Linked DNA regions of Homo sapiens. The protein of the gene in region 3 purifies or fractionates together with the protein of the main gene of each other region. This does not show direct contact. Each region holds a gene or a part of one and is shown on either strand. Other genes may lie near its edges.

Region 1 (3,076 bases), on a different chromosome or scaffold from region 3:
AGCTACGGAGGGGTGACATTGCTGGCCATCTCTAATTTTATTAAGATCTTTGATTATGTTATCCAGGTGACAAAATTCTCCAATCACGACTCACCTCCAGAAGCTTAAAACATAATTGTTTCATATACTGTTAAACACTTAAGAGATTTGTAATTTTCCAGACTTTCAGTGTCTTTACTTGAATGTCTGCCTTGCTTAGTTACTGTAAGGTTTTGATTTATTTCTCCAGTGTCATTGTTTTTCAGCTTTATTGTTTGATATAGTAAGATTTCACATGCCTAGCTTACGATGCTGTTTAAACTTACAAGCTAACTTTGCCTTTTTACTTTTTAATAGGTCCCTGATTACCCTCCAAACTATATTTTATTCCTTAATAACTTACCAGAAGAGACTAATGAGATGATGTTATCCATGCTGTTTAATCAGTAAGTTTTTTCATAAATAAGTCTGTTTCTGAGAGCTTCCTCACAGGACAAGTAGTACTTCCGTGGGTTGAATCCATTTATCACACAGCAGTAATTCCTTACAGGTTCATTGATTTGGTTTGGGATGAATCATGAATTGGAGCCAATTTGCCGATTTAGCAAATACAAAGCTAAATTTCCTCTAATGTTTGAATTCTTAACTCTGATTGATGTAATAACAAAGCTTTGATATAATATAAAATAGAATTAGTTTATTCTTGCAGTTCTTCCATGGTATTAATTACACATGAGGCTCTTCCGTCTACTCAGTATTCTTGGTTAGAGTATGGTTATTTTTCTTGGACTAGTATTAGGAAGTTGCTTAACAAATTTTAACACAAAGCAAACATTTATGTACTTGCTGTATACATGAATTGTTTTTCTTCTTTATAGGTTCCCTGGCTTCAAGGAAGTACGTCTGGTACCAGGGAGGCATGACATTGCTTTTGTTGAATTTGAAAATGATGGGCAGGCTGGAGCTGCCAGGGATGCTTTACAGGGATTTAAGATCACACCGTCCCATGCTATGAAGATCACCTATGCCAAGAAATAACATTTGGGATAGTCGTCTTTAAAAGACTTGGTGTTATTTACAGTGTTTGTTTTGATAACATTTGGCTGGGTCATTTTAATAGTTAGAGATGAGGAGGAGTAAAAGTGAAATTTTTGTGAAGGACTTAAATTATCCAGTGTTTCTTTAGCCTTGGTGAACTATGAAATACGAAGGCCTTAATTTTGTACAATAAACTTTTATTTGTATTCTGTGTATATAATGCTTTCTTGATTGACCCATCTCCCTATCATCAAATGACTTCTAGTCTAGAACACACTTAAGGTTTATAAACTTGTGTAATAGGATGCTTTTCTAGTGTTACTTTGGAGGAGCTAATTATACAACATCATTGAACCATTCAATAAAAGTTAAGTAAAATTAGATCACAGAAGCTAGTAGATGACTGTTGTATTAATGGTAACAATGATTGTTCTGGGTATTAGAAGAAAATGAGACCCAGGCAGGATCTAAATTTGATCTTTGTATCCTTTTAAGAAATGAATATATTATTTTGCTGCTAGTAGGGATTCCACAAGTTTTCTTCATTCAGTATTAAATAAAGGCTGTTCTTACTGTTTACTGAGAAAACAGAAAGGGAATGCTATCTTCACACTTTGCATTTAATGCTGTTTCCTTCATGAGGCAGGACTGTTCTAAGGTTAATATGCAATCTCTTTATTGAAAGACCTCCAGGGTAAAAATTTTTTGATCTATAGTCTCTTTTCCCCCTTAAGACAAATAGACTGATTAATAAAGAGTTGCCAGTGCTAAGCTTGCTACTTCTTTGTAATTCTTAAACACCAATGTTCAAATATTTCCAAAGCCCATTTTCTTTAGCTTTTGATTTATGTTTAAGGCTATTGATTCAGTCCTCTGCTGAGTAAACCATGGGTATCTCCAGAAGTGGACAATTTGTTTTTACAAGTATGGTACATATTAATAGTAACAACAACAAAAAAGAAAACAGTACTTATTTTTCTGGTGTTCCTGTTTTAGTATTCCTTGAACAAAACCTTTATCACTTGGAATTTTTATTGTCTACTTATGGAAAGACTTTTAGACTTACGTAGACAGTATCACATCACTCTTATGCATACATAAAGAGGAAAAAAATGTTTCCTATAACTTTGTCACAGTTAGTCTGACTCTTCTGAATAACTTTTTTAATCCCAGTAGTCAAGCTCCTGTACTTTTGTAAAATATATTAACAGTGAATTACTAGAAAATGGGCCATGTTCTTGTATATTACAGTGATGTCAATTGCTGATAAATTTTCTAACTGCTTACTCTCGGATACCGTACTTGTCTAAGAACTGAAAATAATTCACAGACTGATCCCATGCCCAGTCCTGGCCATGCTTTGAGTGGCTGTATTGGAGCAGAAAAGCCAGGGTGGCTCACCTGGGGTGAGAATGAGGGGGGTGAATAGTAAGAGGGGTCGTGTAGGTCTTCTTCAGGATTTGCTTATACTCTGAGTGAAATGGGGGACTATTTTAGAGAATTTTTTTAAAGTGGGTTAGAATTTACGTACAATAAAGTTCACCCATGTTAGTGTTCCATTTGATGAGTTTGGGCAATTGTATATAGTCATGTAATAATCAGTACAGAGCATTCCATCACCCCCAAAATTTCCCTTGTACGCCTTTGCAGTCAATCTATTCCCCTCTACCCTTGGCCGTAGTCAACTACTGATCTGCTTTCTGTCCCAACAGTTTCGCCCTGTCTGGAATGCTTTGGAAATGTATCTGCTGTTGCCTATATCAGCAGTTCCACCAATGAATGGGCATTTGCGTTCTCCAATTTGAGGCTATTAAGAAAGTGGCTATGAAAATTTACATACAAGTCTGGGCATATGTTCTATTAGATTTCAAGCAGAAGAGTGATAGTTTGATACAATTTCTAATTTACATAAAAGTTGCAGAAATGGTACACAGAACTTTCATAACACTTCAAATTAATCATTAATGTTTCTAGGCTTCTGGGCTATTTGAGGTTGTGATTACATTGACCTGATACCCCATTATTCCATGATACTTCAATGTGTGTTCTTAAGTACAAG
Region 2 (7,009 bases), on a different chromosome or scaffold from region 3:
TATAAACATTTCTTATGTTCCCTGTGGCAAGTTCATTTAACCTCATCTACCATACAGGATTGTAGTGAAAATGTGCATGCTCCACAAATGTTATCACAGTATTAATACATTAGCTTTACTTTCCCATAATTAACAGAAAAAACTCTTATCAGGTGGTAATATCAAAAACCAACATCAAAATGAAAAACGCCCCTAACATCGAAAACTTTTTTCCATACTTCAACAGTAAGTATGGAAAATTATTACTTTCGGTAATTGTATAGTGAAGATTCTGTGGGTTGACAAAAAGAAGAAATGAGGCCAGAATATGCAACAGAAACCTATAATAACTTCACCTGATTTCAAAGTTAAAATATGCCAGGAGTAAATAAAGCCTTATATAGTTTGGGAGCATTAATATAAGTGAAATCTCCCACTGAATTACCTTCCCTTCTCAGTACTGCAGAAACCCTATCTGGCAGTGGAGTTTGTAAGACTGACAAGCTTATGCTCTCCAATAAAACCACTTGCTTATCAGGGAAAAAAAAAATCTGCAGGATTGCATGGCAGTCAACAAGTGACTTAAAATTATCGAGTATGAAAAAATTCTGAGGCCGATAAACACCTTAAGTCCACTGTTAAATAAAACCAGTTCAAGGATAAATGGCACTCAAATGACATAGAAATGAGTATAAAAACTTCCCTCTACTATTTCTTATAACTTGGGCATTATTCCAAAGATGAACTCTCCTTTATCCATAGGCAAATTCTAAATAATATACAAGGGAATCATAAAGCTACCATTAGACTCCAAAAGTCAACCTTTTTACTAAGGATATCTGTTTTTGCAAGAGAAAGTAAACAATCGCACATACATATGGTGGGACCACTAATCCCAAGGGGAACATTTTAAATGGTGCACATATGCACAAATACAAATGAATTCATTCATTCCCTCCCAGAATATTTTGTTCCAATCTGACCTCCTGTGAGAGACATCAGTTCCAGATGACAGCAATTTATTTTTGCCTTAGAGAAATCAAGAACTAAGTGTTCCCTACTTTACCAACGCATTATAAATGTCATTAAAATAGGCTGTAATGACTCTTAACTACAGTACTGAACTGTGTGCTGCTGAGTGAAAATGACAAAGGCAGGGTTCCAGATCCTGCTGTAAACTTGCACAAGCCACCTTAACTCTGTTCTCCACTTCTCATTCCTTGATTGGAGCCGCGTATAGTCTTTTTTAAGTTGCTTCCAGCTCTGAGTCTGTGACATACAGCTCAGAGGTATTAACGTTTTGTGGGGCGTAATGGTGGGGGAGGGTGATAGCCTAAAGAGAGTCTGTCTTACAATGTCATTGTCTTTTTTACAATGCCTAATATCGTAAACTAAATAACTCACAAAATTAAAATGTGACATGCTTTTGCTTTCTATTGAATAATTCAACATATGGCAAAGCCTCAAAAAGTACACCCTATCCTGGCTTATACTCTACAATGACACTAAACATATCCCTGGAAATCAATTTCAATGAAGAACTTTAGCTGAAAAATTCAAAACAGCTATACAGGTGACTTGACACAGTGATTCTGTATCACAAGTACACAATAAAATGATACAATTATGCAAAGTATTTGGCTACTCGGGCTTTTGTGGGTTTTGCCTGAATTATCCAAACAGGTCTTTGTACTTCATCAATGAAAACACACAAGGGACAAGAAATGATTTTCACGAAATTGCTTAAATTAACTGCTAAATTCCTCTGTACCTTTAAGGAAAGGAATCTGGAACACCAAGAGTTTGTGTAAGTATTTCAACTCTCAACCTCCACATGGGCGGTGTTTCGCCATAAATACTAAAAACACGTTTTGAACATGATCCCTGTATTTCAAAAGCTACTTATGAAGAAAAGTGGGACATGCATAGAAAATAAATGATGAAAAAAAAAAACAATGCCTTCTAATCCCTCCCCATGGGACGATGTTCAGTAACCAGTTTTAACCAAAGCAGGAAATACAGGAGATGGCGGGAGCGTAGGCAGAGAGCGGAAGTTTGCTAGTATCTACTTTGAAGTGTTTGAATGGACCAAGGCACGCTCTCTCCCGCCAAACTATAAACTCAGTCGCCCCAAAACACCAGCCTTCCAGCCCATCAGGTATATTACTCCACGTTTTCCTTTCTCCCGGCAGGTCCTCTACTCCCACCTCCCCCGAGAACTCCCTATTTGCTGGCTTCTCTCAACTCCCGCCACCCCCATCCCAGCCTACATTATGATCCACGCGCTGCTCTCACTTTCCGCCCTCCGCCTTTCCCGTCTGGAGTGCCTGGCCGCGCCCCCACCCAGGCCCTCCCCACGGCCCCTCTGGCTGGGAAGTGCCTGCTGCCCTTGGAAGCGAATACTCCCACCGCGCCCTCCCCCACCCTCTCCTCCGGCTCCAGGCCTTCCTCGGGAACCGAGGCCACGAGGTCCGCGGTTCACTCCCGCCCGACGCCCTCGCAAATGACTCCCGCTCGGTTCGGCCTGGGGGAGGAGGCGCCCTCATGGCTACTGCAGGCCTCTCCACCCTCCGGACTGGGCTGGGCAGCGGCCCCGTCGCACGCAACCCCCCGCGCCCTTGCCGGGCCGAACGGGCGCCGCGCTTCTCCTACCCGCCGCTAGTGAACCCAGCCCAGAGAGAAACAAAGGCTCGGGCTCCAGGACCCGCTCGGCCAGGCCAGCCCCGGCCCGCTCCCTGCCAGGACCCCAACAAAGCCCGAGCTGCCGCCTCGCGCCCCCGGCCTGGCTTACCCATCGGTCCCCGCACGCTTCTTGCCAGAGGGGTAATCCTCCCCTAGGTCCAACCGGTGCCGCTTGGACATCCTCGCACTCTTCGAACGGGCAGTTATTAAGGAAGAAAGCTGGCTGCTGTATGGGCACAGTCGAGGACAGCCACTTAACTCTGGAGGACCCCCACCCCTCCCGCTACTACAGCCCACACGGTGCGGCCGGAACCAACAGCTAAAATGGCGGCGGCGACGAGGGCTGGGCCTGCGCGCGCGCGCGCTTCCGCAGCGTGCGTGCGTGCGAGTGTGCGTGTGAGCGAGGTGCGCGCGCACGACGCCCAAAGGCGGGAACTCCTGTCCCGCCCGCTGCCTCATTGGTCCGACCTTTCTTGGGTCTCCTCCCTCTTCCTGTAGCTTTCCCCTCCTCGGAGCGGCTGTTAGGAAGAACCTGAAGGCCTTCACTTTCCATTTCAGGCTATCCTTGCCCCTCTGAGTCAAGAAATTGAGAAAGTCTAGTCCTAGTTAGGAAATCCTATTCATTTCTATTACCCCGGCTTTAAGGGAATCTCAGACCCAGAGAGGTTGAGAAACGAATGAAGATCGTACAGCTAATAAGTGGCAGAGCCGGGATTGGAACCCAGCTATTTAGTAACTCCAGATCTGGAACTTGCGGCCACTGCGCTACCCTCAGTTGCAGTGAGGGGCCGCGCGATGGTTCACGCCTGTAATCCCAACGCTTTGGGAGACCGAGGCGGGTGGATCACGAGGTCAGGAGTTCGAGACCAGCCTGGCCAACACGGTGAAACCCCGTCTCTACTAAAAATACAAAAATTAGCTGGGCGTGGTGGCGTACGCCTGTAATCCCAGCTACTCGGTAGGCTGAGGCAGGAGAATCGCTTGAACCTGGGAGGCGGAGGTTGCGGTGAGACGAGATCACACCAGTGCACTCCAGCCTGGACGACAGAACAAGACTCCGACTTGAAAGAAAAAAAAAAATCAATTGCAGTGAGGAAACTGAAGTGAGAAAATGTTAAGGCTTGTCATGATCTATTTTGCCCTTTTCTTGCCCAGCACGGACACCATGCACCCAAGCTATAGATGTTTTTAACTAGAATACAGAGAATTCGCAGTGAGGGCACAATTTGCTTTTTTGTTTTTTGTTTTTCTGTGCCTATTAATGCACTTTCGCAGTGTTAAATAACACCCTGCAAGGTAGTTGTTATTTTGTAGACGTAGACGCAAAGGCTGAGGAAGGTTACATCTCCTAGCCATAAGGGCTGTACCTAAAGCCATAACAAGGAGGTGGGGCAAGATGACTCTAAGGATTTTTGTGGATCTCTCCCCCTAGAATATGTCTGCTTCCTCAGTTGCATTTGTTCCCAGAAGAAATGCACAAGAAAAGATCTGTGGACCATCTGCAGCAGGGTGATCTCTGTTGTTCATGGAATGGCTTGGTTTGGCTGCCCTGGAAGACCATACTCTGGTTCTTATCCAAATCTCAGGACTGCAATTGCTAGGATTAAATGCAACTTAAATATTGCAACTGATGAGGGGTTTGTGTGTTTGTTTTGAGACAGTCTTGCTCTGTCGCCCAGGCTGGAGGACAGTGGTGCAATCTCAGCTCACTGCAACCTCCGCCTCCCGGGTTTAAGCCATTCTCCTGCCTCAGCCTCCCTCCTAGCTGGGATTATAAGCGCCCGCCACCACGCCCGGCTACGCGCCCGGCTAATTTTGGTATTTTTAGTAGAGACGTAGAGACGAGGTGTCGCCATGCTGGCCAGGCTGGTCTTGAACTCCGGACCTCAAGTGATCTGCCCACCTCGGCCTCCCAAAGTGCTGGGATTACAGGCGTGAGCCACTGCACCCAGCCAGCAATTGGTAAGGAGGGTTTTTATTTTTTTGTACCAAATCCACATTGGAAAGTCAACACAAAGAAAAATGAGTATATTTTTCACTTGTGAAATATTCAGTACAACTTTCTATCCTAAATGTACCATAGTCCCTACTTTGTCCCTGGTTTTGCTTTCACAGTACAGTAAGATATTCTGAGAGAAAGACCACATTCACATAGCTTCTATTACAGTATAGATTCTCCTTGACTTATGATGGGGTGATGGCCATCGCAAAGCCATCGTAAACTGAAAATGTTGTAAGTTGAACATGCAGTTAATATACCGATAAACCCATCGTGAAGTCAAAAAATCTGGTCAAACAATTGTAAGTCAAGACTGTCTGTATGTTGTTATAAATGTTTTATTATTAGTTGTTAATATCTTACTGTGCCTAATTTATAAGTTACACTTTATCATAATTACATATGTATAGGAAAAAACTGAAATTAAAATGATGAGTTGGCCTTCTATTATCTGTGGGTTCCTTATCCCTGGATTCAATCAACTGCAAATCAAAAATATATTTTTCTTTAAAAATGGATGGTTGCATCTGTATTGAACATGTACAGACTTTTTCTTGCTCTTATTTCTTAAACAATACAGTATAACAGCTATTTCCATAGCAATTACATTGTATTAGGTATTATAAGTGATCTAGTGATGATTAAGTATACAGAAGAATGTGCATAGGTTATATGCAAATACTGTACTATTTTATATCAGACACTTGAACCTCCACGGACTTTAGTGTCGGCAGTTTCTCCTGGAACCAATCCCTAGTGGATACTGAGGGACAATTGTGTTGACTTTTTTCAGATCATGATGTATAATCACTGGATTCCATCTGATTTTTCTCTTTTTGCTTAATTTTACAAATGAGGGAAACTGAACCCCTAGGTCTTATTGAAGTTCACACAATCAGTTGGTATCAAAGTCAGAATAAAATACAGATTTCACTTGAAGTATTAAAATCTCAGTCTTCAGGTTTCCAGTTTGATGACTGCTATAAAGTGCTCTAAAATTTTGGAGAAATAATCAGGGAAAAAAGTTAGAATTCTACCTGCAGAAGTGCTCCACTCAGATGTCAGCCTCTCATAAATGATGAAAGAGGAACTGAAATCAAGGTGATGAGACTTTTCCCTTGGGCCTAGGTTACAGCTAAAGAAAACCATAACCTCATCAGTTGTGTTGTGACCTGAACAATTAAAGAAAGGCCCTGGGCAGGCGTGGTGGTTCACACCTGTAATTCCAGCACTTTGGGAGGCCGAGGCAGGTGGATCATGAGGTCAGGAGTTCGAGACCAGGCTGACCAACATGGTGAAACCCCGTCTCTACTAAAAATACAAAAATGAGCCAGGCATAGTGGCACATGCCTGTAATCCCAGCTACTCAGGAGGCTGAGGCAGGAGAATCACTTGAACCCGGGAGGTTGAGGTCGCAGTGAGCCAAGATTGTGCCACTGCACTCCAGCCTGGGCAACAGAGCAAGACGCCATCAGAAAGAAAGAAAGAGAGAAAGACAGAAAGGAAGGAAAGAAGGAAAGAAAGAAAGGAAGAAAGGAAGGAAAGAAGAAAGGAAGAAAAGAAGGAAAGGAGGAAAGAGAAAGGCCCTACTTATTGAAGGATAGTGACCTCTCTGGAATCTAGAATAAGGGGAACAAGTGGCCAGAGGCTGCCAGGATGTGCACACTCCTTGGGAAGAAGGGTAGAATTCTAGGTCTAAATGATCCACCCTGGATTTTCAGACATCATTATCCCTGGAGTAGAGAAAAGGCACCCACCAGGCCCTCCACAAACTTGGCTGGAAATATTTCCAGATAATATCCTATTTTCCCTTACTGTTACTCTTTCTCTACTAGACAACCCTCTGGCCTATGACATGGACTTTCTCACCTGGAGGAAATGTCTTATGCAGCTAACCAGCTGCAGGGTCTCAAGTCAACCTAAATTAATAAAAAATAATTGCTAATAGCAAACACATACAAAGCACTATGAGCCAGATGCTGTTCCTTACACATTTGAGCCTATTTGAGACTTACAGCAACTTCAAGTTTAGTCCAATGAATTACTCTTATTTACAGCTGAGGAAACTGTTACTCAAAGAGGCAAGTATTTTGGCCAAGATGACAGTTCTGAGATTCAGCCCAGACAGTGTGTGTGCTTAATTGCTATGTTCTGCTGCGGCTGATAAATAGATATTCTCGTTCCACTTTATTCGTCTAAGGTGTGGTTACTGAAGATAAGTTCTCCCAGTCTGACAAGATGAACATGAACTGATAAAACTTCTGCATTGTCCATGTAGAGAACTAGTTTACAGAACTCTCAGTGGACAAGTGGGGATTTGGATTATTTGAACCCAGTCCAACTCTAGAG
Region 3 (7,037 bases):
CTCCCACCTGTGGCACAGTTCCTGCCCCATTCCAAAGAGCTCATGGTACTCCAGCCATCAATGCTCTCCTTCTAAACAGCCACAGGAAGCCCTTCCAGCTAAAGCCAGAGCTTGCTCTGGGATGTCAACAGGCACATGGCATCTCCTTCAGTGTCTGCCTTTGGGGAATTTCTATGGGGAGTTCTTCTGGAAAGTGGGGAGTTCTCTTGCAATATCATAGAGTGCAACTCTCCTCAAAAGCTTTTGTTGACCTCAATTGTTGCTTTCTATGTTTGCTTAGAAGAAGATGGCTGTAATTCGGAGACTACCATGGGCTCTCCTGGAACCCCCACCTCACCTGGTGCGTACACCTCATCATCGCTCTGCTTCTCACGGATGGAGCGATCCCGCTGCTCCAGCCAGCGAGGGTCAAGAAGTCCAATGCGCATGTGTTCCTGCATTTTGCTGGCGGGGATCTTCTCCCCAGTAATGGGGGACACAAGATACTCATCTGGAGCAGGGGCTGGAGGCAAGGGCTTGGAGGCTAAAAGGAAACAGATGTTTCAGTAAGAACACTGGTGGGCAGCCACCTGAGTTAAGAGGGTGGTATTTCATGCGTGCATCATTCATCAAGGCATCTATTCAGTGCCACTCTTGTACCTGGCACTGTGAAAGGCACTAGGGCACCAGAGATGACTGGGCCCTGTTCCCACCATGAAACCTGTAACAGACGGGCTTGCAATGCTTTTACAATAAGCTGCACCTCAAGCCCTCCTAGAAAGACGGGTGTGAGGAACACATGAGGGCACACAGGACTTCCTGGGCAGCCCGAGGGTTGGGAAGCAGGCCCTCCCTACCTTTGGGATCATAATCCTTGCGGACAATGACTTGGTCTGGAGTTGGGGGCAGAGGTGGAGGCATGGGTGTCTCTGGGGGTGGGGGCACTTTCTGCCCTTCTTCTTCATCATCTGAACCCTGAAAAGCAAAGCAATGGCAGGACTCAGAGAGGGGCTGAGGCCACCTCCCTGTAGCTGAGCCTGGCAGGTCTCTGGGTGGCAAGGAGCCTTGGCCTCTGCCAGCCAGCGTCCATGTGCTAAGCCTCCCAGGGCAGCTGAGGCCAGCCGGCAGCAGGCCAAGCTGCTTCCTCACAGCATGAATGGGAGTGCTGAGGCCACGGTCCTAGCACTCCTCCCAGGCATTTCCAGCAGCTGGCACCAGGCAGTCCCAAGAGGCCAAGGGCACTTAACATGCCGGGGGGGGACAGTGCCAAGGGGGCGAGGGGTGGGGGCGGCGAGTCGCCAATCAATGGTAGCTGCTCACACAGCAATGCTGGGAGGGAGAGAAAAAGTCATTTCCCACAGACAGGGGCCCTTTCTTCTCAGGCTGTGCACAAATTATTTCCGAGTGGGGGAGAACAGTCTGGTTCTGGAGACTCCATGCCTGCTTAGAGGGCCTGGCTTGAAGGGGGTAGGGATGCCTGAAAGGAAGCGTGGGCTACATTTAGAAAAGCTCTGGGAGCTTGGAGCCCAGCTGAGAGCTCAAAACAGAACAGGGTAATGCAGTGAGTTCCCTGAGGGCTGGCACGAGGCAGTGAGAGCAGGCTGTCCGGGCCAGGGAGGCGGCCACAGAACAGGTCAGCACAGCTTTTAGATCCTTGCCTATGAATGAATCTTTGTTGCCGGAGCTGGAAAGAGGCTCTGTGCTGCCTGGACTTGGGCAGCTGTATGGCCTTGTTCAGGACCCACGCCTCCTTTCAAGGCTCACAGGGGAGCTGGATCTGACTGGTGGAGAGCACTTCGACCTCCTGGGGCTTCAGGGGAAAAGGTCATCCTGCAGGCCTGCCCAGCAGCTTACCTCATCCATATCTTGTACTTGGGTGTCCTGGTCCAGCTGGGAAGGAGGCTCCTCCGCCTTCTCCTGTTTGTCATCCTCCTCATCAGACTCGACCTCCATCTCAACTTCCTCACTCTCCCCAAACTTTTCATAGCGCTCCTGAATGAGGATTCGGGCCCCCAGCTCCTCTGGCGTGGTGGGGGGAGGGAAGTTCCCTAGAGGGTGAGCCAGAGGCAAAGGTATTCCTTATCAAAGACCCACCTATTTGCCCTGTCTGAGCTCCCCAAGGGCTGGGGCCATGTCTGTTTTCTCTCCAGCTATCTCCAGAGGCCCATCTAGGGTCTGGCAAGTACGTATTGAATCTAAGTTGGGCAAAGTGGTAGAACTGAAGTCTTTTGGGAGCAGGGAGGAGACAGCACTGATAAAGCCCTCTGAGAGATTCTACTGCTCTCTGGGAACACCTGCACCAGGTTTCCCGGGAAGTCTGAGTTCCTGGCTCCCCATCTGGAGTCACTCCTCACAGACCTACCTTGCTCATTGGGTTGGAAGTCCACTGTTTCCACCACCACAAAATCATGCCAGTCGATCTGAGCATAGGCCACCCGCTCCTTCTCCTTCTCCTCTTCTTCCTTCTTCCTCTCACGTTCCTGGAATTTGGCCCATTCCACTCGGTAACACACCTGCAGAGATGGGAAACAGCTTGGTGCTACGCTGAAGCAGGGTCTGCTCCTGATGAGGCTACCACCTCCAGGGCTTTCATCAAAGTCAGCGCCTCCTTCGGAACAGAATGGAAGTATGGTTCCAAACTATGGCATTTGCACCTGGTTCCACCCAGGTGCAGAGTTGGGACAGAATGAAAATTCCACCCTCTGATCTGCTTGGGAGCTGGCCTTCTGTCTTCTAGCTAGAGTGGAAAAGAGGGAGATATATTGAGGCTGAGAGCAAAGCAGAAAGTTGTGGTATGTTGGGAAGCATCCGGACTCCAGGTTTCTTTGGCCTTTGTAGCCAACAAAGCCTTTTCTCCCACCATTCCCATGACTGGAACATAACAAGGTCCTGCCTCAGAGACTGTTTTCAGACATAAAACAGAACCAACCACCAGTAACTGGTTGCAAGAAATGCTATTCAGTTTACCTGATCCAAAACTTCTCGGGGGTTTTCAGCCTCTTTCTTGAGCTTTGAAAATAAACCTTTGGGTGGAATCAAGATCTGAAATACAGAAGAGTTAAAGCAACTGTCAGTGCTTTACAACGCAGTACAAAGAGGCAGCCTTCCTGGGCCTGTGATAAAGCACAGGAGATGAGGAAGCATGGGATTCTGTGTCCCAATCCCAGCTCCACTTGGCTGTGGGACTTAGGGCAAGTTACTTAACCTCAGTAACTTGATTTCCTTCTCCAAAATAATGGCACCACCACTCAAAGTTGGCACCATGAACTTAAAAAGGTGGCTTCGAGGATTAGCAGGAAAGCATGCAAAGCACTAGCCGATTACCCAGAACACGGTCAGTATGAGACGGCTGCTTTCATGACACTGACCTGCTCTCATCCTTTCAAAAACACTACGCAGGTCCCCCCTGACTATCCTATTCAGAACCGCAGCGTACTTGCCCCACCTCCCTCTATTTCTGCTCCCTGCTTTCTCTCTGTAGTATTTAGCACCATGTAACAGACACTGACAATGCACTTGACTCCTCCTCACTAGACTAGAAACTCCATGAAGACAGGGATTTCTCTTTTGTTCACGATTACATCTCCAGCCCCCTGAATAATGTCTGACAATGTATACTTACTGAGAGAACAAATGCTGCCTTTGTTCTAAACAGCCCCAACAGCTTCTACTGCCACTGGCAAAGTGGCTCGGCCCTATCCCAATCCTCCTTCCACCTCTACCCCAAGAATCTATCTGCTCAGTCTTCCATGGCTAGAACAGACAGCAGGAACCTCAAGTTACAGTGGTAAATGCCAATACCCAAGTTCTGAAGAAAAAACAGGAAAGTAACAGAATAAAAAGTGATCTGGGACCTTTAACCCTGGAAGCAGTCCACTGGGAGAAATTAATCCAGGGTTCATTTAAAATTGATATTGCATATTTATAGAAACCCTTGGGCCTTGGGCCTTGAATGACTGTTATTTTAGCTACCATACTAGCTTCTGGATTTGGTCATTTTCTAAACACACACATTGTTAAAATTCTAATTATGTACTTAAAAGTGAGTAGAGTTAGGAAATTCTCAAGTCCTTTCAAGTCAGATCTTTGAGGTGTTGTTTCTGGATATGAAGAAGAGATGTACAGACCATCCCACTGTAAAGGGAAGGAAAACAACCTCCATGACATGTGTAGCAAGAAAAATGTGCCACAGGCAAAGCTGTCAGTGCACTTTGCAATAAATTAATAATCTGATTATTTTAAATGCCAGAACTGACTTGTCCTGATTCTTGATTGCAGCTCTGTCAAATGATAATTGAGTTCTTAGGGTCTGGAGTAAAAATGCCAGAGCTCAAGCCCCAGCCCTGCCACCTCCTAGCTATGTGACCCTGGCCATGCTAACTTCACTGCACCTCAATTTTCTCTTCTGTAAAGTGAACATAGCAATAGTGGCTACCTTATAGGCTACCGGAGATTAAATGAGAAGATGCTGCATACATAATTTCTTAGTGATGTTAGTTATACTGACTTACATGACATCAAAGTGTCTCTCAACACCTATTTAAATGCTGTTTCCAATTTAAGGCACTTTATAAGCTGAAGAACCAAAGTTTTAGGGTCAAATGTGGTTTAAATCTCAGCATAGTACTTACTAGCTGACAGACCTTGAGTACGTGACTTCACCTTTCTGAGCCTGTTTCTGCTTCTCAAACATGGGGGGAAAACACCTCATGGCTTCTTGTGAGGACTAAGTTAGGTAAAAGGAGGCAACTCTTAAAGGTTGGCTTCTTCTCAGGGCCTTACTAGGCAACTGAAAACGGAAATGCACTTAAAAGCAGCAAGCACCACGTGGCCTTGTCACATAGCAGGCAATCGCCTAATGGTAGTTAGCAAGCATGTATTTCCCTTCTCTTTAGAAACCGGCAGTCTGTGTTGCACTTAAAGAAATAACTGAATAGAAATCAAGGTTTTACATTAAACTGGGATTCAAAACATTTGCTCAGAGGCCCCATGGAGAAGCGATGTCCTTGTAGACAGTGAGTGGACACAGTGCTTCCAAGCATAAGATGTTTTCCTTTCCTGGGCCCAGGACCCCAGCCCCATCCTGCCCAGGCACCTTGGTGTACTGTTCCACTAGCTTCGTGAAGTAGTTGAAGAGGCTGTGCTGTGGGCGGAGAAAGTCAAACTGGTAGTTGCGCTGCTCTTTCTGCATCAGCTGGGTCAGAAACTGGCGCCCATTCCTGGCCACAAACTGAGCCGTCAGCTTCACCACATCCAAGTCGAAGGCTGAGATAGAGGGAGGATCAGCAATGAACTCAAACTCAGGAGGAGGCTCTTTGGGCACGATGGTCTCTTGGATTACTTGGGCTTGGACCTAAGATGCAAAGGGAGTATGAGGCGAGAGGCACAGGGGTGAACAGGCTCCAGGGGAGGGGAGGGGAGGGGACATGGGCATGCACCCCTCAGCAGGATGCTGTGAACCTCTAGACTTCTGTTAATTATGCACACACCACTAGCACTTGGTGTGAGAGAATTCTAAATCACAAGAGCATTGACTTCCCAGCCAACTATGGCCTCAACTTCCTGAATGGCTGAGTGAGAACCATTCCCCTCTGTATCTCTGCTCCTGCCTTGAAATTGAGGGCCAAAACTGGGTGACAGAAGATCCAACAAGAATAGGACTTATTAAATCCCATCCAAGAGGGATGGATGTGCAGAAGGCCTACATGTGTGCAGAAAACCCCACTGTACAAAGTGTTTCCATGACCTCCGCATGAACGATGAGGTAGCACAGGTACTGTGAATCCTCTTTACAGATGAAGAAACTGAGGTAGCCTGAGGTCCTAGGCCTCATTGCAACGCAAGGTCTTAGAACCTGACTTCAACCTTTATAGCCCACTGCAAAAGGAGGGACTGCCTTTTCCACCATGGTTCAGGAGTGCAGAAGGCAGGTCTGGACAGGAGGAAAAACATGTCAGCCTCTCTCTTCATTCATAATCCTAATAGTCCCTAGTGCTGGGCCTCAGCACAGGGAAGGTGGTATCAGGGGAGGCCAGGATGGAGGGGTCCTGGGAAGAAGAGATAGAAGGGAAGGGATGGCACAAGGAGGAGCCCACAGGCCACACTGCATCCTTCAGCACAGCCAAGTAGGAAGTGCTGCCCTCACATCACGGCACTGCCCTCACACCCTGAGCAAGGCCTTGAATAAATCACACGTCCCCCAACTCTCAGGTTCCTCATACAGCCTCTGTGAGGAGTCAATGAGACAAGACTCCTGAAGTACCAAGCACAGAGCTTGACAAGCAGTGCTCGGGAAATGCCAACTAACATCAGTACTTTGCTGTCTGGGCCTCGGTCTGCCTCTGAGAGATGGGGATAACGACCTCACTTCTCTCCCTGGGTGGTTGTGAGATTTGGAGTTAATTGTGTACTCCCTCCCTATCCCTGTTTCCCTCTCAAGCCCTGCGTAAGTGAAGGGGGCACTGGGCTCCAAACCTTCTGGGGCAGCTGCTGCTGGGTGGTCTGCTGCTGCTGCTGCATGACCTTGGGGATGGCGGCGGACGGCTCCTGAGCCTTCCCTTCCTTGAACTCGCTGACCTTGTGGCGGTAGTAGGCATGGTAAGGGTCATTGGGGTTCAGAAAGTTGAACTTGGGGTTGTTGATCTCGTTCTGTCGGATCCTAGCTTCAAATTCAGGCCCGTTTCTGGAGGAAGAAAAAACAACAAGAATAAACACCACTCCCTTGTGCCTGCTGTGATCTAGAACACTGCCCATTGGAACGTCCTTCTTGCCACCACCCACTGCTCAAACCAGCCCATCCCTCAGCAGACGTCCTCCTCTAGCTTCCTGGCATTGGCGATCAGTGCCATCTGCCTCATTCAGCTTGAACCAGGCCACCTCTGCCACAGGGTTTCCCTGAACCCAGTCATTCCTTAGCTCCTTTTCCAGTTCTGCCATTTCCAAAACCATCTAGGCTATCGCTCATTTCTTTTAATAAAATTTACTTTAAAAAAAATCTATTTAAGATGGAGAATACATATTACTACTTCAAATAAAAAAAAATCAGTATGCCTTTACCA
Region 4 (7,293 bases), on a different chromosome or scaffold from region 3:
TCTGCCAGAAGGAAGAATGGTGAGTTTTCAAGATTCCACCCAAGCTGGAAAGTATTTTTTTAAAACATGTGCAACTGGCAGGAAAAAGAACATGGAAGAGTCTTCTCAGAAGCACCCCACCTACTTATCTTTCAAGTGCATCTCAGAAGCCTTTAGTGACTATTGCCCCCACATAAAACTAACCCCCCCCAACTGGTTTCCTCAAGCATACTCAGATCACAGCAACCTTGGCAAGTTATGCTGCCTATTGTTTCACACAGCGGTTTCTTCCTGCAGTGTAAGCCCCCTAAAGGCAGGGGTGTTTCTTATGTTCAGCTTTGTATCTCTAGCTCAGCACCATGCTTGAACATTGTTAAGTGGCTCTATTAATATTTTTTAAATGTGTTAGTGAATGGATGAAAAATGTTAGTGCACCTATTTAAATCACATTATTATGAAACAGTGAGATCTGCAGATCTGCTTTTTAAGCACATAACTTATGATAAGTAGGATAAAATTTAAATTGCAAACCATAATTAAGGAGAAAAAAACTACCACCACCACACAACCAATAACGAGTCAAGGTCTGAGTTCTGAGCACCTAAAGAGGCAGGCTTGTTAGCAAGAAATATTTCTATCACTAAACAGATATTCATGCATCATAAAACAAAGCATGCCTCTTTGAAGCCTAAAGAATATGGCAAGACCGGGCCCAGTGGCTCACGCCTGTAATCCCAGCACTTTGGGAGGCCGAGGCAGGAGGATCACTTGAGATCAGGAGTTCGAGACCAGCCTGGCCAACATGGTGAAACCCCGTCCCTACTGAAAATACAAAAATTGGCCGAGCATGGTTGCGAGCGCCTGTAATTCCAGCTACTCAGGAGGTTGAGGCCAGAGAACCATTTGAACCTGGGAAGTGGAGGTTGCAGTGAGCCGACTTACACCGCTGCACTCCAGCCTGGACTATAGAGTGAGACTCTGTCTCAGGAGAAAAAAATATATGTATATAAATATATATATAAAAATATATAAATATATATAAATATATAAATATTTATATATTTATATACATATATATGGCAAATATACCCAGAAAGGAACAGGAGGGGTGGTGCACTTTGGTGTCCGCAAAAAATACAGCTTAAAAAGCATCTACCTCAAGTATAAGATCTACCATGACTTTCTAAAGAATTAAAAAAAAATTTTTCCCATACCTCCATCTGACGCCCTTGTCAGTTTAATCTTTCCATTCAATCCCACCCTCTGGCTGTTACCAAAATGCCATAGGCTAGTATTGCAAACACAGTCCACTACAGTCACCTGTAATTTAGGCGAATAACAGAACTTCCTTCACTATTGACTATTATGAAAGGTTTGAGAGATGACTAGCCTGGGATCATCTGTTCCCTGCTGGGAGGAGGTCTGAAAAATTCATAGGCAGGGGAGAATGGGAAGGTAAGTTAAAACAAACCAGGTAAAAAGAAATCCACTTTAAATAAAGCTGCATTTGGAAGTGTACAACAATTCTCTCAAGAGCCTCCAGAAAGGCTGCCTTTGGTTCCGCAGAGCTCCACAACCGCACAACCTGCTCTGTTATAAACTGGACAGCACGCAGCACCTTGCTTAACTAACTCTAAAAATAAAGCCCTCTCGTTTAGCTCACTAAACTGTTACCCCATATTCCCTAAAAGCTGTCATTACGATCAAAATGTCTGCAGCCTTTACAACTAAAAATGTGGAAACTTGTGTTGCATCCTTTTAAAAACTCCATCTGCTGCGGGGAGCCAGTGCACATCTACCCATCTATTTGAGTATATGCGAATCTTGCCCTTATCTAGAATATCCTATTTCCCATCCATATGCCTGGCTCTAGCAAAATAAGGACCCTCAATGGCGCTTCTTTACTGCTTCTCAAGAAACCTCCATGTTCTGACCTGACTACTCCTGGAAACACAGCAGCCCCTCCTCAAACCTTTCTTTCTGCCTAACCTGCAGCTTCCAGAACGCACTACGGGGCTTCGCTTCTGCTACTTTCGCACTTACTTCCTCCGCCGGCAGCCTTTTTCCCACCTCTCACATCTAACAACGTACCTTCAAGACTCAACATAAGCATGACCTCCTCTCTCAAGAGAGGTCCTTCCAGACCCCACTTGCGTTTCTCAAATCAACCCGGGCCTGGGTTTTCACGCCTGCTTTCCCAGAAACCAAACTCCTGCAAGCAGGGGCAGAACCTCATTCCACCTGCATTCTCCGATCATTACACATTCTCGGGGCAAGAGGCGAAGCTCAAAGACTGCCTGGGGTCGGACGTGAGCGCTGAAACACCGCTCAAACTGCACGAGCCGAGGCGACGCCGGGGTTAGGGCTGCATTCCTGTCCCGGGCAGCTCCGGAGTCTGAGAAACGCCAACGTCTGCACTCCCAGTTCTGAGACCCCGGGAGGAACCGGCTCCGAGCCCCAGAGAGGGGCAACCGTGCAGGGCCAGGGGGGACACGCTACGGGCTACTCGGTTCTGGTGACCAGACAATTTCGTCAGGATGCGGTGCACGAGACGGAGAAGAAACGCTCTTCAGCACCAAACAGCCCGAGGCAGACATGAGGAGGAGGAGGAGGAAGGGAAGAGGGAGAAGGTCAGGGCCAGGGTCACCAGAGGCGGCGGCGGGCGGAGGGTACCGGGCCGCAGCCGCGTGGAGAGACCAGCGCCCGCCGCGGGGACTGAGACCCTCGGAGGCTCCGGCTGCGCTGGCCCGGCCTCCGCCCCTCGCGACGGGCCTAAAGCCGCGGGCTTGCGTCTAGCGCCTCCCGGGAAGGCGCGCCCGCCTCAGGTCCCGCCAGGCCACCCACCCGGGGCCGCCGGGGCGCCACTTACCCGGCCCGCCCGGCCGACTCTGCCCATGAGCCGCGCCGGCGGCAGAGCGGAGCCGGGCGGCACTCCGCGGAAACCCGCCAGCGGCAGGAGGCCTCGGCGGCGCCCACCCTTCGCTGAGTCCTCAGGGCGCTCGGCGGCGCGGGGTCAGGGAGCGCGGGCTGCCGGGAGAGCGCGCCCGCGCCTGCGCCCCGCCTGCGCCTGCGCCTGCTTCGGCCTCTGCGCCTGCGCCGAGGGCGCCTTGCCGCACTGCCCCCTGCCCGCGGGAGGACCGCACTGCACGCTCCCCTCCGCCGGCGTCTTCTTACCATCAAGAGGTGTCGCCCTGGCGCACATTTTCGAAATTCCACAAGGCTTGGGGAGCGCGGCAGCGCCCCCAGATGGTGAGGAGGAGAAGTGGTCCGAGGCCGGGCTTTCTGATAGGGGAGGTGGGGGAAGTCCCTCCAGGCCCCTCGATCTCATTCATTCAAAGCCACTCCTATATAAGCAAAAAGTTGAAAATAAGTCTGCATAGGCCAGATGCTGCAAAAGGATGGCAAGGAGCACGAGGTTAAGCGTAAGATTATGGAAACAGATGCCGCGATTAGGGGTACAGAAAAGAATGTCAATGCTATAAAGCCTCGGTCTTTAAAAACGACGTCGCTGACAGAAGCAGGGAGGGAAAGGGAAAGTGGGACTTCGGGTAAATATGATTTTTACATCTGTAATTAATTGGGTGTCAAATAGAGTTCAAGCCGATAAATCAAATAGTAGAGATTTAAGCAGACGTCTTAGTCCGAAGGAGTATACCAAGAAAGTTACTATAATCCATTAAAATCCAGTCATTAAGAAAACGGGAAAAGGGGGAAAAAAGAAATACAGTGGAGAGACAAAAGACAATCTAAAGAAATAGAGGATTAAGGACGTCATGGGATGGTATGATTCTGAGGGTAACCCAGAACAAAACTACAAAGCTTTCAAATAATCCACACATACATGCACCCACACATACATGCATGCACACACACACACACACACACAAAACCACAGCAAAAAAAATATATATATAGGGAAATATTTTAAAAAGTTACAAAACAGAAAGCGTAACCAAACTATATGACAGAACAAGACCAAATGTCTCACAAGAAGAAATATAGACCTAAGCTTACCTACTAAAAAACTACAATCTCAGATAGGAGCACAAACCATCATGCAACTCAGTGTTGTATACAAGAAAGTGCTAACGTTATTCTGAGTTTGAAAATACAAGATTGGAAAAGATATACCAGGAATATGCAAAAAAATTAAAAAAATCAGGAATCACAAACCGCTTACTACAAAGTTGATTTCAGGGCAAAAAGCATTAAGTAAGATTAAGAAGGACATTTTATAATCTTGAGGAGCACAATTCACAATCAAGAAAAAAATAGGAAAAATAGGAAAATCTTTGCACCAAATCACATAATCTCATTATTCATAGCAAACACTGTAGGAGTGAGTGAATAGACAGAAATAATTGGCACACTCCTTGCCAGACGAAGAGTACAAAAAGTAAATGGGGATTGAGAAGACCTAAAAATACAATTCCTATGATAGATCTAATATATCAAACACTGTCCCCTAAATAGACATTACATCTTTTCCAGTGTCTAAGGAATATTCACAACAATTAGTCATATTTTAAACCACAGAGAAAAATCTTAACATAGTCCAATAAGTAGAATCATATCGGTAATATTATCTGCAGCAATTCAATAAAAGTAGAAATTAATGAAAAAACAGAAAATAAAACATGCCTACCCCTTGAAAATTTTTAAATGCTTAAATAACACTTGGACTAAAAAGGAAAACAAAATCAAAATAACATAATATCTAGAAAAGTATGAAAATGACATACTCATGGGATTTAGCTCAGAGAGTACTAAGAGGAAAATTCATGGTTTTAAGTTTTTGTATCAATTAAAAACTTGGAAAAAGCTAAATGAATTAAGCACTTGTGCAAGAAACTGGAAATAAAATAAAAATGTGAGAAGCAGAAGGACGTACTTGGTCAATAAAAGAAGCAGAAAGTAATAGCGTGTAAACAGAAAAAGGAAGAAGGGCAAAGATAGAAGGTGTCTAGACTGGGTCTCTCCCCACCCCGTGATCAAAGCACCGGTGGGGGTGCAAAAGCCCTGATTAGGAGGTCCAGAGCTGCAGGACTTCCTCCAGGTTGAACCTGCTGTCTACCTGTACTCCCTAATCTGCTTGGCGTCTCCACTCTGCAGTCTGAGACCACTCCTTCCTCCCTTTTTGGTTGAAAATTTGTGCCTTTGTTCCCAAATCATTCCATCATACATACACAAGTAACTTTTTGGTTTACAGACCATAGATGCAATCACATCCATTGTTTAGGAATTTTCTAGTTTAACTTCCAGGAGGAAAACTGCCTTACTTCATTTCCTAGTACGTGAGCAGTCTCATGCTTGCCTCCATTTCCTGTCAATAGTAACAAATATCATCTTTATTTTATGCACCGAGAATCCAAAGCTTAACCCAATGGGGGAACAGAACCCAGGCCATGCAACTATCAGAAAGCGCACACAAAACGGTGGAGCTTTAGAAGAGGGACAAGACAGACGCGCTGGAGCGCCCCCTCGGGGCTGCAGAGCAAACATCGGTAGTGACTCCTGCGTAAACAAGTCGTGTGATCTGCTCCAGCTGTGCTCAGCGCCTGGCAGGAGGCTGGCAGGCAGCAGATGGTAGAATTCATCGGAAACTGGGAATTAGCAGGGCAGATGTTCCAGGAAGAAAGAAGATAAGGGCGGTGTTTGGGCTGGCAGGAAAGGCTGGGTGAAATGCTACAGTATGCAGCATGGATGGAACCGGGGGACCCCGAAACAGGAAAAGAAAGGGGTGTGGGCCCTGGAGGGAAGACAAGCTAGTTAAGACAATTTGATCAGATTATAATTTGATCAAAAACAAGTATTCCCAAGGATTCTGTGTGTAGGGATGCTTTCGGTGCACCGTGGAGAATGATTTTTGTCTCCTTTTTTGTATCTTTTTTTTTTTTTTTTTTTTTGAGACGGAGTCTTGCTCTTGTCACCCAGGCTGGAGTGCAATGGAGTAATCTCAGCTCACTGCAACCTCCGCCTCCCGGGTTCAAGCGATTCTCCTGCCTCAGCTTCCTAAGTAGCTGGGATTACAGGTGCCCGCCACCATGCCCGGCTACTTTTTGTATTTTTAGTAGAGACGGGGTTTCACCATGTTGGCCAGGCTGGTCTCGAACTCCTGACCTCCGGTGATCCGCCCACCTCGGCCTCCCAAAGTGCTGGGATTACAGGCATGTATATCTCTAAGCAGCTTCGGCCATTTCAGAAATCTTTCCTTCCTTCCTTCCTTCCTTCCTTCCTTCTTTCCTTCTTTCCTTCTTTCCTTCTTTCCTTCTTTCCTTCTTTCCTTCTTTCCTTCTTTCTTTCTTTCTTTCTTTCTTTCTTTCTTTCTTTCTTTCTTTCTTTTTCTTTCGATGGAGTCTCTCTCTTGTTGCCCAGGCTGGAGTGCGATGGTATGATCTGGGCTCACTGCAACCTCCACCTCCTGGGTTCGAGCAATTCTCCTGCCTCAACCTCCTGAGTAGGTGGGATTACAGACGCCTGCCACCACGCCCTGCTAATTTTTGTAGTTTTGGTAGAGATGATATTTCACCATGTTGGCCAGGCTGGTCTCAAACTCCTGACCTCAAGTGATCCACCCGCCTTGGCCTCCCAAAGTGCTGGGATTACAGGTGTGAGCCACCATGCCCGGCCCATCTCACAGATTTTTTAAAGTTTTTTCACTTTTTTTGTCTTTCTAAATCATTCTCTACAGTTATTCCTGCTCTGTAAGGTTTCTAATAGTAAAAATATAGGAACAAACTAGCGAACAATAACAACTTAGGGAAATTCAATTATGTTGAGAGACAAATAATTTACATGGAAGGATCCCATTTTTGTTTTAAAAATTTATAAATATATACAAAGTATCTATAAGGTATTTGCCAATATGGCTGGCTCCAGATAGGGATTATCAGGATTCTTTATTTAAATTTTTTTGCTTGTTTGCCTTTTTTATCTCTGAGTAATATGCTTGCATTGCTTTTGTAATAAAAATAATGAAAGAAGGCTGGGCGCGGTGGCTCACGTTTATAATCCCAGCACTTTGGGAGGCCAAGGTGGGTGGATCACTTGAGGCCAGGAGTTCCACACCGGCCTGGCCAACATGGTGAAACTCCGTCTCTACTAAAAATACAAAAATTAGCCGGGCATGGTGGTGGGCGCTTATAATCCCAGCTACTCAGGAGGCTGAGGAAGGAGATTCGCTCAGACCTGGGAGGCAGAGGTTGCAGTAAGCTGAGATCTCACCACTGTACTCCAGCCTGGGCTACAGAGTGAGACTGTCTCAAAAAAGAGAAAAATAAAAATAAAAATATAATGAAGGAGATCATCAATTTT

Evidence for each region.
Region 1: the proteins of SF3A1 (region 3) and SNRPB2 purify together in Homo sapiens (affinity purification with mass spectrometry; 5 studies listed by BioGRID and IntAct, with this or other methods). This does not show direct contact.
Region 2: the proteins of SF3A1 (region 3) and DHX15 purify together in Homo sapiens (co-immunoprecipitation; 5 studies listed by BioGRID and IntAct, with this or other methods). This does not show direct contact.
Region 4: the proteins of SF3A1 (region 3) and RBM17 purify together in Homo sapiens (affinity purification with mass spectrometry; 5 studies listed by BioGRID and IntAct, with this or other methods). This does not show direct contact.

What each region holds. Positions count from the first base shown.
Region 1 is NC_000020.11:16,739,989-16,743,064, forward strand, and holds the end of SNRPB2 (U2 small nuclear ribonucleoprotein B''), read left to right. Parts: intron 1-336; coding exon 337-425; intron 426-857; coding exon 858-1,017; 3' UTR 1,018-2,576; downstream 2,577-3,076. UniProt on the Homo sapiens protein: Involved in pre-mRNA splicing as component of the spliceosome. Associated with sn-RNP U2, where it contributes to the binding of stem loop IV of U2 snRNA.
Region 2 is NC_000004.12:24,581,553-24,588,561, forward strand, and holds the start of DHX15 (ATP-dependent RNA helicase DHX15), read right to left. Parts: upstream 3,003-7,009; 5' UTR 2,842-3,002; coding exon 2,771-2,841; intron 1-2,770.
Region 3 is NC_000022.11:30,339,859-30,346,895, forward strand, and holds part of SF3A1 (splicing factor 3A subunit 1), read right to left. Parts: intron 6,662-7,037; coding exon 6,454-6,661; intron 5,333-6,453; coding exon 5,075-5,332; intron 3,022-5,074; coding exon 2,947-3,021; intron 2,493-2,946; coding exon 2,342-2,492; intron 2,028-2,341; coding exon 1,834-2,027; intron 955-1,833; coding exon 837-954; intron 524-836; coding exon 338-523; intron 1-337. UniProt on the Homo sapiens protein: Component of the 17S U2 SnRNP complex of the spliceosome, a large ribonucleoprotein complex that removes introns from transcribed pre-mRNAs.
Region 4 is NC_000010.11:6,084,749-6,092,041, reverse strand, and holds the start of RBM17 (splicing factor 45), read right to left. Parts: upstream 3,009-7,293; 5' UTR 2,849-3,008; intron 2,697-2,848; exon of another isoform or gene 2,071-2,696; intron 1-2,070. UniProt on the Homo sapiens protein: Splice factor that binds to the single-stranded 3'AG at the exon/intron border and promotes its utilization in the second catalytic step. Involved in the regulation of alternative splicing and the utilization of cryptic splice sites.